Homo sapiens: one gene and its partners. The protein of the gene in region 1 purifies or fractionates together with the protein of each later gene. This does not show direct contact. Each region holds a gene or a part of one and is shown in the gene's direction. Other genes may lie near its edges. The genes, in order: HSD17B3, ABCB9 and PYGB.

What was found.
Region 2: the proteins of HSD17B3 (region 1) and ABCB9 purify together in Homo sapiens (affinity purification with mass spectrometry; one large-scale study listed by BioGRID and IntAct). This does not show direct contact.
Region 3: the proteins of HSD17B3 (region 1) and PYGB purify together in Homo sapiens (affinity purification with mass spectrometry, with the first as the bait; one large-scale study listed by BioGRID). This does not show direct contact.

What each region holds. Positions count from the first base shown.
Region 1 is NC_000009.12:96,295,594-96,299,245, reverse strand, and holds part of HSD17B3 (17-beta-hydroxysteroid dehydrogenase type 3), read left to right. Parts: intron 1-783; coding exon 784-830; intron 831-3,652. UniProt on the Homo sapiens protein: Catalyzes the conversion of 17-oxosteroids to 17beta-hydroxysteroids. Favors the reduction of androstenedione to testosterone. Testosterone is the key androgen driving male development and function. Uses NADPH while the two other EDH17B enzymes use NADH.
Region 2 is NC_000012.12:122,942,421-122,946,072, reverse strand, and holds part of ABCB9 (ABC-type oligopeptide transporter ABCB9), read left to right. Parts: coding exon 1-48; intron 49-1,553; coding exon 1,554-1,682; intron 1,683-3,652. UniProt on the Homo sapiens protein: ATP-dependent low-affinity peptide transporter which translocates a broad spectrum of peptides from the cytosol to the lysosomal lumen for degradation.
Region 3 is NC_000020.11:25,293,027-25,295,892, forward strand, and holds part of PYGB (glycogen phosphorylase, brain form), read left to right. Parts: intron 1-1,131; coding exon 1,132-1,266; intron 1,267-1,716; exon of another isoform or gene 1,717-1,946; coding exon of another isoform or gene 1,947-2,004; intron 2,005-2,577; coding exon 2,578-2,644; intron 2,645-2,866. UniProt on the Homo sapiens protein: Glycogen phosphorylase that regulates glycogen mobilization. Phosphorylase is an important allosteric enzyme in carbohydrate metabolism. Enzymes from different sources differ in their regulatory mechanisms and in their natural substrates.

The sequences.
Region 1 (3,652 bases):
GAAAGCATGCCCTTTAATTGTTGTTGCAAGGGTAAATTGTAAGTTTTACGATATACCGAATTGTAGTGAATTTTGAAATTGTGACGTTCTCACGAATGAAGCGTATACTAGAGCTCAATCATTAAATATGTCTGTAATGTTGATATGAAAGGACTAGCAGACCTATTTGACTGTTGTATATTAACAGATAGTTCTATTGAGTACAAATTCTTCAGGTTTCTTCATTTCACTGCATTTTCTTTTTGCATTTTGGTATTTTCCTCTTTGCTAAATTCCCTACCTTCCATAGGCCTTTAATTGCTGCTGTGGGGTGGGGGTGAGAAGTGGGCAGAGCTCCACTTTTAGAAGGAACCTTGAAATGTCCTTACAATGACAGATGGGTGCCTGGGCAGAGAGATAATGGGGAACACTGCCTGCCCTTGTGGGGTGAAGGCTCACAATATCTGCATCCTCATGGGGCCTGCAGGAAATGTTCCCTGGCTGCGGATCTGTTTCATTTTGGAACATGTTTTCCACAGTCTCGCCAATCCCTCCAAAACACCAACTAACCAACCAACCAACCAACCAACAAACCAACCAACCAACCAACCCACCCACCAACCAAACAATCCTTTCACCTGAATGTTTAGTGAGGGGCTTCAAGGGCGTGGGCTGGAGAGCAAAGGGATGAACCTTTGGAGTACTGACTGCCCTGGAGACTAGGCTTGTGAGAAAACGTGGCCAGTGAGAAAGAGAAGTTTAAAGATGAATTCTGTCTTTTAAAAGCATTCTTGCTTTTCACAGTGATCACTGGAGCAGGCGATGGAATTGGGAAAGCGTACTCGTTCGAGGTAAGCTATCTTCCTGGGGACTTTCTCCTCCCTTGTATTGAACAATCACAGTCCTGAGACATCCACCCCAACACTAGATTTTTGAATATAAAAGCAGTATGCATTCATTTAAAGGAGAAAATATACTCTATGGAAAAGCAAACAAAAATAATAATCTCACTCCCTGGATCTCTTTTTTTAAACACAATGATATTCAAAGGTGACAGTACCTTGCCTTAGGGATTGTTTTGGGAATTTGTGGGGCATTGGTATTTTCTAGTGTAATTGTGCCATATCAGCTTATATACTTTAATTTTTTCAAAACATTATAAACTACTTTCCTTTTATTTATTATTTACATTAAGCTAGGGCATATATTGATTTTTTAAAAGTCACTTGCTTAGGCAAAACATATTATCAGTGACTTTCATTTCAAGGACATTAATGGCATTATAGCATATTCTATAAAAAGAAGGTCTAATAGAACTGAGAGTCACTAGAATACAATTAGTATTTTTGAGTATTTGCTTCCACGCTTATTTCTCTGTAGATAGATAGATTGATAATTATACTTTAAAAAATGCATTTATAACATATGTGGTTTTATATGCTATTATAATTATAAATTTCACATTTTTATTAATGAAACATTGTTTCCTGGAATTCCTATGTATTTTATTTCTTCCTTATGCCTATTACACTGATGTCTAGAACCATGTCAAATACAATAGAAGAATAGAAAGAATTCTAGAAACTGTAAGAGGAAAGCTGTTTAAAAATCAATAACACCAGCTGGGCACGGTGGCTCACTCCTGTAATCCCAGCACTTTGGGAGGCCGAGGCAGGTGGATCACCTGAGGTCAGGAGTTCGAGACCAGCCTGGCCAACATGGTGAAACCTCATCTCTACTTAAAATACAAAAATTAGCAGGGTGTGTTGGCAGGTGCCTGTAATCCCAGCTACTTGGGAGGCTGAGGCAGGAGAATCTCTTGAACCTGGGAGGCAGAGGTTGCAGTGAGCTGAGATCGCACCATTGCACGCCAGCCTGGGCAATAGAGCAAGACTTTGTCTCCAAAAAAAAAAAAAAAAAAAAAAGAAATCAATAACACCTTAAAAATATAATGAAAAGCTTTTCCATTTGCAATAGAAAAATAAGTAATCCTAGAAATACAGTTAACATAAAATTTGTAGGTCTTTTTCAAGAAAACTGTAAAATTCCATTGAGAAATATGAGATATTCCAAATAAGAGAAAAAAATACCACATTCTTGAAGAGAAAGATATTTGAAACCTAACAGTTTCTCCTAAATTTATCTCAAATCCCAGATTATACATACCATTATTTTTTAAATGTTACATTAGTTGTGAGCATTTTCTTATGTCAAAACTGTGGGTTTTTTTTTTTTTGAGACACTTGCTCTGTTGCCCAGGCTGGAATGCAGTGGTACAAACACTGCTTACTGCAGCCTTGACCTCCTGGGCTCAAGCAATCCTCCCACCTCAGCCTCCCGAAGCAATGTGTCCTCCTGGAACTACAGGCTCATGTATTTTTTGTAGAGACAGGGTTTCACTGTTCCTCTGTTGTCCAGGCTGGTCTTGAACTCCTGAGCTCAAGTTATCTGCCTGCTTTGGCCTCCCATAGTGCTGGGATTACAGGCATGAACCACTGCAGCCTGCCGAAAACCCTGATTTTTAAATGGCAACATAATATTCCATCAAATGGATGGTCCATAATTTAACCATTTTCTTGGTAAAAATTTTAATTTTTTTCTGAATTTTTCTTCATTTTATATAAAATTGGGAGTAAATACAGAAACTTTTCTGCTTATATCCAATTATTTTGGGAGCTATTTTCTTGAGGTGGTCTTGCTGGGTTAGAGGTTGTGAATATATGTAAGGTTCCAGTGCTTTCCACTATGTTATAGTAATTACACCCATTTCTGAGACAGATGTGGTCTTCATCAGCTTCAGCTGCAGAATGAATTCCATAAGCTGAGTGGCCTAAGCAAGCATGTATTTCTTAGGGTTCTGGAGGCTGGGAAGTCCAAGAGCGAGGTGCCAGCAGATCTGATGTCTGGCAAGGGCTCTCTTCTTGGTTTGCAGACAATTGTCTTCTTGATGTAGCTTCACACGGCAGAGAGCAGAGAGAGGGGAAGCAAACTCTCTGATGTTTCTTCTTCTTTTACTTTTTGGAGACAGGTTCTTGCTCTGTTGCTCAGGCTGGAGTGCAGTGGTGCAAACAGCTCACTGCAGCCTCAACCTCCTGGGCTCAAGTGATACTCCCACTCAGCCTCCTGAGTATCAGGGACTACGGGCGTGTGCCATCACGCCTGGCTAATTTTTAAATTTTTTGTACTGACAGGGTTTCACCATGTTGCCCAGGCTGGTCTTGAACTCCTGGGCTCAAGTGATCTGCCTGCCTCGGCCTCCCAAAGTACTGGGATTACAGACATGAGCCACCATGCCTGGCCTGGTGTTTCTTCCCATAAGGACATTAATCTCATCGTGAAGGCCCCACTCTCATGACCTGATTACCTCCTGAAAGCCTTACCTCCAAGTGTCATCTCATTGGGGGTTAGGATTTCAGCATATGAATTTTGGGGGGGCCACAAAACATTCGGTTCATATGAAAAATGCATTCAACTACAGTACAGTACCCATGCCTTTTCTTGTCCCAGACGGCTTGCATCATAACAAAGCCATCTTATGTGAAACAGCAGTGCAAGGCATCTGGGACGCACTTGCTAGAAACTTGGCGTATGTTAACAAACCTCAAGCATGTCAGTTAAAAAAGCTCCTCGTGGGCTGGGCGCAGTGGCTCACGCCTGTAATCCCAGCACTTTG
Region 2 (3,652 bases), on another chromosome or scaffold:
AACAGGAAGGAGGCAGCTGCCTACATGTACTACGTCTGGGGCAGCGGGGTACGTGCCCCTGGCCAGGCAGCTCTGGCTGTGGAGGGATGGGATGCAAAGATGGGGGAAGCCCTCGATCTAGGACATCAGTCCTGCATGTTGGTGTCAAGCTGGTGGAGAATCTGTCTGTCTTTCTTTTTTTTTTTTTTTTTTTTTGAGACAGAGCCTCACTCTGTCACCCAGGCTGGAGTGCAGTGGCACCATCTCAGCTCACTGCAACCTCCGCCTCCTGGGTTCAAGCGATTCTCCTGCCTCAGCCTCCTGCATAGCTGGGACCACAGGCGCCCGCCACCATGCCTGGCTAATTTTTGTATTTTTGGTAGAGACGGGGTTTCACTATCTTGGCCAGGCTGGTCTCGAACTCCTGAGCTCAGGTGATCCACCCGCATCAGCCTCCCAAAGTGCTGGGATTACAGGCGTGAGCCACCGCGCCCTGCTGAGAATCTTTCCCAGAAGCAAGGCTGCCCCTCTCCCAGTCACCTGACGTGGGGTGGCAGGGTGGGAGCTTTCTTTTCCCAGCTGGGGAAACATCCTTGCTGAGGTGGGGAGTCAGCAGGTCCCTAGGCCACTTTCGGGCAGGTCTCATGTCACAGCCACACACACTCCCGACAGTGTCTGGCACACTCCCGGGAGTGCGTCACAGCCTCTCCTTGGAGGATGGGGAGCACTTGGATCATGTCACTGCTACACTGGACACACATGGGAGGTGGGCAGGTCAGGGCATAGCTGCGGAGGAATGAGGAGGGTTTGGAGTGAGAGGGAGGAGGGAGCTGGTGGTCTACAGGGGAGCCAGGGGAAAGAGGATATCTGGGACTTCCTGGTGCTGCCACCTCCCAAAAGTATCAGCCAAGGAGGAGAGGAGGGGCTAAGGTCCAGCTCAGCTAGCTGAGCCTCTTAGCAATCCGTCTGCTGGCAGGGGGTGCCTTTGCAGCTTCCACCAAGGCACGGTGGTCCAGACAGCAGCCTAGTTCTGGCTGGGCATGAGGAGGACAGATGGAGTCCCTGACTAGGGTGTGGGCTGCCATGGGTACTCAGACTCCACTCCCTTCCCAGATGCCCCCCAGGCACAGGAGGAAGGCATGGGCGCTCCCATCACAGCCCCTTCTTCACGGAACCCCACTGGGGGAGGAGACAGAGAGCTCACTGTGTGACCTTAGCCAGGGCACTTGCCCTCTCTGAGTCATGCTCTTCCCCATGAGGAGGACGAATAGTTCCCAGGTGGCCAAGCTGAGGAGCCTGGGGGTGGCATGTGTGTGCCAGGACCTCACAAAGAAAGCCTTGTTCTGTGGCCAAGCCCACAGCCTGCTCCAGCTGGAGGCCTCTGTAGGGAAATGCTCGGGGCAGGGGAAGGCATGAGTGACAAGCCTTGGAAGACACCCCTGCCAACGGCCGGCATTTCAGTTTGTGGCTGGGTCTGCCCTCACCTCCCCCTGCAGCCTGGGATGGGTCAGGGAATGGGGATGGTGGGGGATCTAAGGTCCCCTCGACCCACATCCCCTCTCCCTCTGCCCCAGCTCACACTGCTGGTGGTCCAGGTCAGCATCCTCTACTACGGGGGCCACCTTGTCATCTCAGGCCAGATGACCAGCGGCAACCTCATCGCCTTCATCATCTACGAGTTTGTCCTGGGAGATTGTATGGAGGTGAGAGGCCAGTGTGTCCGGGGATCCAGAGAGAAGGGAGGAGTTTGGGGAAGAGGGATCTTAACAGGGTGGGGGCGGGGCTCCAGGGACTCTGACAATGTGGTATTTCTCTCTAAGGTAAGTAGGGGAGACAGCATGATCATATCAAGAATGATAATACTAGGCAGGGCGTGGTGGCTCACGCCTATAATCCCAGAACTTTGGGAGGCGGAGGCGGGTGGATCACTTGAGGTCAGGAGTTCGAGACCAGCCTGGCCAACATGGTGAAACCCCATCTCTACTGAAAACACAAAAATTAGCCAAGCGTGTTGGTGGGTACCTGTAATCCCAGCTACTTGAGAGGAGAATTGCTTGAACCCTGGAGGCAGAGGTTGCAGTGAGCTGAGATCGCACCACTGTACTCCAGCCTGGGTGACAGAGCGAGACTCCGTCTTGATAAATAAATAGGCAAGCCGAGTATGGTGGCATGTGCCTGTAATCCCAGGTCCTCAGGAGGCTGAGGCTAGAGAATCGCTTGAGCCTGGGAGGTCAAGGCCGCAGTGAGCCGTGATCACGCCACTGCACTCCAGGCTGGACGACAGAGAGAGACCGTGTCTCAAAAAGAAAGAAAGGGCCAGGTGCGGTGGCTCACACCTCAGGAGGCCGAGGCAGGAGAATCGCTTGAACCCGGGAGGCAGAGGTTACAGTGAGCCAAGATCGCGCCACTGCACTCCAGCCTGGGCAACCAAAGCGAAACTCCATCTCAAAAAAAAAAGAAAGAAAGAATGATAATACTACCAACAAGTGACAGCAACACCCTTTAGGGACAGAGGTGATTTCAGAAAATGGTCTTAACAGCTCTGTGAGAAATTGAAGTGATGAAAAGAAAACTGAACCTGAGCGGTGGAGTGACTCGTCCATCACATTTGCTCGGGAACGGGGCTCAGGGCCAGCCGGGCCTGACTTCCTCCCAGCCTACTTCCAGCGTAGTGCCTCGGAAATGCAAGGGTGTTTTAGATTGTCTTGATTTTGGTTTCCGCACAAGCAGATCCTGAGACAGAATTGGCGTGCAACGGATTTGTTTGGGAGGTGATCTCAGGAAACGGGGGTGGGAGTGGAAAGTGAGACGTGGAAGGAAGGAAGTCAGCAGAGTGAGTTGTGGAGCCAGTTACCAGTGTGGGCAACTGAGGTGGGATCCTTCTAGCGGACAGGGTAGGACACCAGCACCAGAGTCATCCCATCTGAGGGCCAGGGAGCTGGGGTGTTTACACCCAAGCTGCCATCAGCCATTGCTCAAGGTCAGCCTGGAGTGAGGGTGTTAATTCTCTTGTCTGCCTCGCTCCCACAAAAAAGCCCGCAGCCCGCAGGCAGTAAGAGATTGGGCCTTTGTGTGCTGCGCTGACAAAGGCTCAAGGATGTTGGTGGGGTGTTCCTAGCATCTGCTACTCAGGCCATTGCATCTGCTGGAGAATCACACCTGCCATATTATTTGACTCAGCAGTAAATCTGCCCCTAGGAATCCATGCTTCAAGAGTACTCACAGCAGTGGGCGAAGATGTATGTCCAGAGATGTTCAGTGCAGTGTTGTTTATTTATTATCATTACTATTTGAGACAGTCTCACATTGTCACCCAGGCTGGGGTGCAGTGGTGCTTTCATGACTCACTGCAGCCTTGACCTCCTGGACTCAAGTGATCTTCCCACCTTAGCCACTTGAGTAGCTGGGGTTACAGTCACATGCCACCACACCCAGCTAATGTTTTTCTTTTTAGGTTTTTTTTTTTTTTTTTTTTGAGATGGAGTCTTGCTCTGTCGCCCAGGCTGGAGTACAGTGGTGCAATCTTGGCTCACCGCAACCCCTGCCTCCCGGGTTCAAGCTATTCTCCTGCCTCATCCTCCCCAGTAGCTGGGACTACAGGCATGCACCACCATGCCCAGCTAATTTTTGTACTTTTAGTACAAAATTTAGTACAAAATTGTATTTTCAGTAG
Region 3 (2,866 bases), on another chromosome or scaffold:
TGGGGCTTGCCTGCTGTTGAGGTTCCCTGGTCTAAGTTGTAACTGTTAAAATTGTTTAAAAATAGTATTTTGGAAACATTTTAAATGTGTAGGCCAGGGTCGGGGGGGGTGGGGGAGTGGGGGGGATGGGGGGGTTGGGGGGTGGCAGAGGGGAGGAGGGAATCCTGAAGACAGCACCCAGAGCTTCATCCACCTTATCCCCGCGCCCCTCCGTTGGCTGCACTGAGCTCAGAGCACTGGCCCTCCTGCAGCCCACACTCCATTCCAACTCCACCGGGGTTCTGTTACTGTCTTTCCCATCCCAGGATCCCATCAGGGCACTCCACTGTGTGTGGCCGTCAGGTCTCCCCAGTGTCATTTGGTCTGTGACAGCTTCTCAGTTTTTCCTTGTTCTTCATGATCTGGACGTCATGAGGAATCCAGCACGGGCCTGATTCCAAGCGATAATTACAAAGAAAAGGCAGTGTTGCCTGATTGCCTTGAAGCACTGGGGAGCCTGTGAGGCCTTAAGTAGGGTCAGGTGAAACCACACATGCCATCTGAAGTCAGAGCTGTGCCTTGCTGGCCCGAGCACAGAGGCCTGTGCTCCCTTTCTGCGCCCTCACACAGCTTCTTCTGCCCGGGCCCCGTCCTGGGATGCCCATGTCTGCCCGTCCGTCCCTCTCCCACTTAGCTCTGCCTTGTCCTGTCTGGTCTTGCTTGCGTTTTTCCTTTTCCATCTTCGAGGTCCCAGCCAAGGTGCTCCATTTCACTTCCTGCCCCTCCGGCCGTCTGTTTTTCAAAAGCTCTGCCCAGGATTTCACAGTGAGCCAAGTTCTGAGTGGCCCTCTCCACTAGGAATGTGGCATCAGCCACTATGTCCTAGCAGATCTGCTAGTGATGACATTTCTTTAACAGTCAAAGGAGCAGGTGGGATTGGCTTTAGACTGACTTCACATCTCTGCTCGAGCAGGTCCCTGCTCAAGGGCCTCGTAACCACCCATGGCCACTGGCTGCTGCCCTGGACCGTGCAGGCCTTGAGCTCCCAGGGCCATCCTGGGGCAGGGGCTGTGCCAGGCACCAACATGGCTTGTTCTCCAAGGTGGCCCACCTGGGGCGCTGGCTGCTGACTCCTGGCCCATCGCCTCACAGGTACAATGCCAGGGAGTACTACGACCACCTGCCCGAGCTGAAGCAGGCCGTGGACCAGATCAGCAGTGGCTTTTTTTCTCCCAAGGAGCCAGACTGCTTCAAGGACATCGTGAACATGCTGATGCACCATGACAGGTGGGACCGACTTCCCTGGTTGGGTGGCTGGGAGGGAGGGAGGGAGGGAGGGGTCCTCTTCGTGGGTTGGATATTCCACCTTGTTTGGAGAGCAAAACCCGTGCTTTCAGGACGTCTTCTCCACTGTGCCCATGAGACCTTACTGGGCAGAGCCTTAGACCCCAGCTGGGAGTTTGCGATGGCCTCTGGCAATGCCAGGGGGCCCTGGGCAGCGAGACACAGCAGCACAGTCCAGCCCCCAGGCCTTGTGGACCAATGTGCTGAGCAGGAGGGGGTGTCCTCTGCTGGTTGGAGGTCCCAGGGGCAGCCGTGTCCCAGCAGGCCAGTAGAGGGAGCATGGGCCCAAAACTCCCTGGGGTGGGGTAGGGGGCGCACAAGGGCTGCGGAACCGCGGCAGGCGTCAGTGCCAGTGACAGGCAGTGGTGAAAATGGATTTCACTTGCAACGATGTGACATTATAATGTAGTTAGTGTTTTATTTCAGTGCAGTTAGCACATGGTATGGTTTATCTAGAGTTACAGACTTTGTAAGGTTTGCAGCTCAGGGCAGTTCTTCACCGTTGGCAAAAGTTGAATCCGGCGAGGGCTGGGAATTCACCTGCCCTCCACTTTCAGCTGCCTTTGGGTTAGTTTTAGTTTTGTCTGCTGCTCTTCGATGACCGTGTCACCTGTTGGCTTCAGTCACACCAGCTCTGACCACATGCTGGGATCTGGGCTGGAACCTGGGCCCTGCTGAGGTCTGTGATAAAGGAAGTGCTTTTAAAATTGTGAACTCTGCATTTCGTGAAGTGTGCTTCTGACTCGATAGTGAACAGAAATGCATTTGTAGATTCATAAATCTGGCATTTTTGTTCAGCACATCAGGAACTGCAAGTCAGTATTTCCTGTGTAGGCAAATCCCAGTTAGACTTAAGACGGCAAATGGAGATGCCGTTCCCCAGCAAGTGCCCCCTGCCCTGAGGCGGCGCCATGGGCTCTCCACTGTCTGCCCAGGAGGCCTCTCCCATGTGCAGCTCTAACTGCCCTGCGTGTGGAAGACACGTTTTAAATGCCAGTTTATTTAAAGGAGTGTTGGGTTGAAATAAGGTTTTTCTAAAATATTGTCCCAGGACATAAGTGTTGCTCACAGAGAAGCCCTGTGGCCAAATGGGCCTGGTGCAGCCTGGCTCTGACCAGCTGCGTGGGTGGGCCCCTTCGCTCCAGACAGGACCAGGTGGATGGTGCCTGGCCTCCTGCCCTGGGACTCTCCCCTCGGGACAGTGTGGGCAGGGCTCCCTGCTGCCCTGGCCCAGCCTCCTTTCTCCCATTCCAGGTTCAAGGTGTTTGCAGACTATGAAGCCTACATGCAGTGCCAGGCACAGGTGGACCAGCTGTACCGGGTGAGGCTCCTGGGTCCAGAGGCTAGGGGAGCAGCTGGGTGGGTCCATGTAGACGTGTTGGGTCAGATTGTTTATTTCCCAAGCTGAGTAGATTCTTGGCCTGGGCCAGAGGGGTTTGTGATTCTGATCTGTCATCAGTCGGCTGTGCCTGCCTTTAGGGAAGCTGTCACTGTCAATGTCACTCCCTCCGTTGAAAAAAACAGCTCCTAATGGCCAAGAAAG